Regions from separate parts of the Homo sapiens genome. Here region 1 is linked to region 2. Evidence: fine-mapped expression QTL. Tissue or cell type: blood mononuclear cells. Region 2 holds a variant in brackets; the other region holds the start of a gene. All regions are shown on one strand. Distances are between the middles of the regions.

Evidence for each region. PIP is the estimated chance that this variant, and not a neighbour inherited with it, causes the effect.
Region 1: RGMA starts here. The variant in region 2 is fine-mapped to the expression of RGMA in blood mononuclear cells (TOPMed, PIP above 0.99).

What each region holds. Positions count from the first base shown.
Region 1 is chr15:93,088,015-93,090,653 of GRCh38, reverse strand. RGMA (repulsive guidance molecule BMP co-receptor a) reads left to right here and starts at 1,443. Exons shown (of 4, transcript NM_020211.3): 1 at 1,443-1,735. The coding sequence starts at 1,722. It overlaps LOC101927025 (a long non-coding RNA gene), which reads right to left and starts at 1,440. Exons shown (of 5, transcript XR_007064769.1): 1 at 1,377-1,440.
Region 2 is chr15:93,177,885-93,180,729 of GRCh38, reverse strand. No RefSeq gene overlaps it. Among named protein-coding and RNA genes, the nearest start is that of RGMA, 90 kb to the right of the region's middle. RefSeq lists enhancers at 1-255, 256-794. The variant CG/G (reference allele first, on the strand shown) is at 1,503.

The DNA.
Region 1 (2,639 bases), 90 kb after region 2:
TGGAGCTGAGCTATGAAAGATGAAGAAATTGGTTATTCACTGAATGTCAGGGCACAGAATGTCAGGGCAGGAAGACCACACACACACACACACACACACACACACACACACACACACACACCCTACTATTCATAGATGAGGAAACTGAGGCCCAGCAGAGCTAGATGACTTGCCGAAGGTCAGAGCTAATTCTAGAAACCCATCCCCAATCCCTTCCTGCTAAACCACTTAATTTTATTTATATCCCAGCTATAGATTATACAAATACACTTGACAAATAAAACGGAGAATATTGAGTTAAAACCACATCTCTGAAGACCACACGCATAAATAACGATCGTGTTTTAATGCGGACGATACCTTTTCATTTTGCAAATCCAGAGTTCTCATCATATCAAAATTCAAGACAGTTTGTTCTGTAAGAAGGGGAAGGTCATAACCCTGTCTAGAATGTACTGGCAAATCTCTCTAACCGTGCAGTGCTAATTTGGGCCTGAGCTGTGTAACCAGACCGACTTCACGCTCCAGCTGGGGTTTCAGATCCACACATGGCGATTGGGTGGCTCTTTGCTGTTTCACAGCAAGGGTCCTTCCCTGGGCTCCCGGAGCCTCTGGGGATTTACTGCTCCCGACGTGGCCGTGTTCAAGCCACTGTGTGCATGCGCTTAATGTTGAAAACATTCTTTTGAAAAGCCCAGGAGATTCCACTCGCAATCTGTGCGTGTGCATGTAAAAGCGCAGAGACTGGAAAGAACCGCGGCAGAGCACACCCTGACCGAAGGTTACCGCGGGGGAGCCGCGGCCGTGGGAGAGCCGCGGCCGTGGGAGGGAGTGCGATACGGTCTTTTCACTCTAGACACTCCTGAGTTATGTACAATTCTACGCAAGAATGTATGCGTGTGTTAGCATGTAATACATATGTATTAGTTTTTTCAGGAAGATTCTTAAACAACAACAAAATCTCTATAGAACAAAGGTGCGTCTCCGCAGAGCGCAACAGCATTTGTCTTGGATGTAACCGCCTTCTCCAGAAATCTCAGAGGAACTCCCCTCGACCACCGCCTAACTGAAGGACACCGTGCGCTCCACCGCAACCCTGCGGGCGATTCGGAAAGTTGGAGGCGCCCCGGGGAGTCGCCGCACTTGCCGCCCGCGCCCCCTAACCTGAGCATTCAAGGAGTCTTGACTTGGCCGCTGGCGCACTCCGCACCCACCCAGCCGGTGCTGATGCGGGAGGGTGGGGCCGCGGCGGGGCGGGGCAACGCGAGCCCGCACCCCGCTCCTCCCCGCCCCTCCCTGCCGGCCCCGCCCGCGCGCGCCCCCCGCCCGCGGCCCGGGCGCCCGGCCCGCCCCCTCCCCTCGGCGCGCAAACGAACCTCGCGACGCCGCGCTCGGCGGCGGGCGGGGGCCGGGCGAGGGAGGGGGCTGGTCCCGGCCGCCCCACTCTGCAGTTGTCTCCCGAGCGCTGGCTGCGCCGCCCGAGCCGCTGGGCCGGGGAAGCACTGGCCGTTCGCTCCCGGGCCGGCTCCGCCAGGCGCTCGCAGGCATGCAGCCCGGGAGCAGGAGGCGCTCCCCGGGCCGCTGCTGAGCCGGCCGGGGCGGCGGGGACCAGCGCCAGCGGAGCCCCTCCCACCTTGCCCCGGGGCAGACGAGCGGCGCCCCGACACCCCCTCTTCTCCCGCAGCCCCGCCAGCGCCACCCCCCGCGGGCCGCAGGGGCTCATGCAGCCGCCAAGGTAAGCGCGGGTCGGGAGCCGGGCAGACCCGGCTCTGACATCTCCGAGGCGCCGCCGACACATGCCGGGGCCACGGCGCTGCTTTGGTCTTCCTTAGCCCCGCGTCTCATCTTGCTCCCATCTTGCCCACATTTGGAGCTTTGCTGCGCCTCTATCGCTTTAGCTGTTGGCAGCAGGAAAGTTTTTGTGGTTTGGTGTTTGTTCTTTTTTCCTAAAATACTCTCCCCCGGGCAGCCGCCAGCGCGCGTGGTTGGGCAGACCCGGCACACGTCCCTTACACCGTGTGCGGGCTGGGAGCTCCTTCCCTCAGCCCGGCTCGCGGAGCCCCGGACGGAGCCGGCCACCCGACTGTCCCGCCGTGAACCCCCATTGGCCCGCGCCGCCCGGGCCCCCGCCTCCCGCTCGACGCCCGGCTGCGGAGCTGCCTGGCCATCTCCTGCCCTCGGGGATGTCGGCGCAGTGCACCGCGTGGGCTCGCGTCCCGGCGGCCCTTTGCCTCGGCGCGCCGGCGTACGGGAAGGTGCGGACCTTGGATTGAGGGCCGAGGATGCCCATTGCCAAGCCGCCCCGGCTTTCCTAAGTGGACGGGAGGGCACGGCGACGATTCAGCGCCGGCTCGCGCCGCAGCTCAACCCAGGGTACAAGCCCGGGCATGGGGGACAGGTGTATTCAATGGGAGGGCGGGTGTGGGGGACGCTCGGGTGCAATTCGGGATTGCGTCTTATTAATGTAATTGTATTAGACTTGCTCGGAGGTAGAATCAGTTCTCCCAAATTGAGATTTCTAATGGGAGCCTGTGAGCTGCTATTATGTGGTGTGGTTTTGGGAGGTGTTGGGTTGTATTTATTTTATAAATTGGGTGTCTCGCGGGCGGAGTAGGGGAAGTAGCGCCATCTAGCGGAAG
Region 2 (2,845 bases):
CTCCTCTCTGGGCTGTAGTGCCAGTGTCTCCGCCGTGGGAACCTGGCAGTGTCTCTCCTGGCAGCCTCCACAGGCCCAGTGTCATTCTGGGACTCAGCACAGGTCTTCTCCATTTCTGCACCTGTACATTGCAGGTCACACCTGAGGATAGGACGACCTGAGGGCTGAGTGAGCTGACACGGTGAAGAGCTGCCAGCGCCTGCCCCAGTGGGGACTCCCTATTCTGTTCCGCATGCACCCAGGACTCCCCTTGAACACAGCAGTCTCCCCCTGCCTGGGGGACGGTGGGTCAGGGCCAACACTGTGCAAGAAGCCGTGGGAAGCCACCTCCACCCGCAACAAGCAGCTCAAAGCATCAGCAAGTCAAGAGCGTGGTTTTTAACTACAACAGGCAGAGAGGAAAGAGATGGTGAGTGTAAGGCTCTCACTCCCAGGCATTTACCAGGGCTCTGTGGTGCATCTCTTCCTTAGCTCACTCCTGGCCAGGATGTTCTTCCCTGACCCTGTTGCAGGTCACTGACGTCCCCAACCATGAGGACTTGTGATGGGCCCAGTGGGAGGTCGCAGCCAGGCACTATGATTGGGGGACTGAGTGGCTCTGAAAGATGTACCCTTCTTTCCCTTTCAGCTCAGAAGCAGCAGCCCCAGCTCTCGGCAGCTGGCTCCCTGCAAGCTGCTGCACACACGGCAAACCTCCTCTCCACGCCCGGCCCAGTGTGGTTCCCCCAGCAGATCAGGCCTGGCTGCCTCCGTGTCCACACCCTGACCTGCGGCTGAGGCCCATTTCTGTCTCCCGCGGTGATCCTACCTCCCAGCACGCTCCCATGTAGCTGTTGATTGTTCTCCTTCCCTTCCTCCCTTCCTCCCATCCTTTCTCCCTCTTCCCTGTCTGTGAATGGCATTTCTGGAGTGTGAGAGAGGCCCGGGACCGCAGGTATGTTTCCTGTCTGCCCGTTCTAATCAAAGGCAGATGCCTGCGGTGCGTCTGGCCTCGCAGAAGCGGAGAACCCATCCTCGGAGAGGGGCCAGAGGAGAACTGTGTGCTCCTTTATAGCTGCATGCTCGGGTAAGGGCTCTCTTTTTGCCTTTTACTATTTTAACTTCAGAAAGGCTACCCATCCTGTCTGGGGCTCCTGCCCTGCCTAGGACAGTAAGGTGGTATAGAATCGTCATCAGCTGTGAGCCCAGATAGTCCTGAGTTCAAATCCTGTGCCATCATTTCTTAGCTTCCCCTACCTTTCGTCCTCTGGAAAAAGGGGATGCTAGGTGAGGGACGAGGGAACAGTACAGCCACCAGCCCTGGCTTGCTGTTGGAGGGATGAGGCGGCAGAGCCCGCAGAAAGGTGGATACTTCATAGTGCCAGCCACGTTCCCGCCCCACCCCACAGTGCCCGAACCTGCAGGCGAGGCTGTAACCACGAGGAAAGCATCAGGGACCCGGTCACTCGTGCTCATGGACGACCTGCCCCTCCCAAGTCAAAGGTCGTCGCAGGAGAGCTGCC[CG/G]GGAAAGGAAGCGAAACCTGGCATTGTTCCAACAACCTCTTAGGCCCTGAATTTCTGTTTCTTAACAAAGTCACTGTTAGATTGTGTTGAAAAATAAGATCTAGGCTAACTTCCTTCTTGGGTCTTGGGACACTTTCTTGCTGTTATATGATCAAGGTGGGGGCTGCATAACTATTCCCCGCTGCACATACTCCCTCCCTTCCCCCTCAACTCCCTCCTTCCCCAACGCCCCCCACCCAGTGCAATCTACTTACTGTCTCTCCCACAGTGTTCCCCTAACAGGTTCCTGCTGGCACAAAGGGTCCCACCTTTGAAGACCTTTGGGTTTAAATCCCAGCTCAGTTCCTAACCAGCTGTGTGACATAGGAAAGTTGCTTAACCTCTCTGAGTCTCAGGATCGCCATCTGCAAAATCAAAGGGCTGATGGCAACATCTTCTTCTCAGGACTCATGGAAAATTAAACGAGCGCTGCTTCCAAAGATGTTTGTGCAGGGTGGAAACTCAGCACAGGGTCGTGTCCATTTCACAGCCTTCCAAGGGCTGCAGCCTAAATGTCTCCAGCCACGGGAGAGGATGACAGCTGCCCTTCTGTGGCAGGCCTTGGAGTAAAACTCCCAAACCATCCCCAGCCAGCAGAGGCTGCCCAGCCCAGCCCCTCCAGCAGGGCGGCTCCATAGACTACAGGGCAATACGGCCCAGAGGCTGTCCCTGTCCACTCCTGTTGCGCCAAGCTGGCTCCGGGAGGGGCTGGTGACTGGGAAAGATGCTACAGACACAAGTTTGATTTTTCATTAAATCCTCTAAACATTGTGAAAGGAAAATAAATATTGGGACCCCAAAATCACTAAGCCAAAGGATAAAGTCAAGCTGGGAACTGCTTAGGGCAAACCTGCCTCCCATTCTATTGCTAAAAAAAAAAGATGGCTACTAAGATTCAAAAGCTACATACCTCCCTCACAAGGAATTTCCTTCTGGACAAATGACAGACAGAACTCAAAGTCATCCCTCTGCTCGCCGAGATAAATGCATATCTGATTGCCTCCTTTGGAAAGGCTCATCAGAAACTCAAAAGAGTTTCACTGGGCTCCGTGGCTCATGCTTGTAATCCCAGCACTTTGGGAGGCCAAGGTGGGCGGATCATGAGGTCAGGAGATCAAGACCATCCTGGCTAAAACGGTGAAACCCCGTCTGTACCAAAAAAATACAAAAAAATTAGCCAGGCGTGGTGGCGGGTGCCTGTAGTCCCAGCTACTTGGGAGGCTGAGGCAGGAGAATGGCGTGAACCCAGGAGGCGGAGCTTGCAGTAAGCCGAGATTGCACCACCGCACTCCAGCCTGGGCGA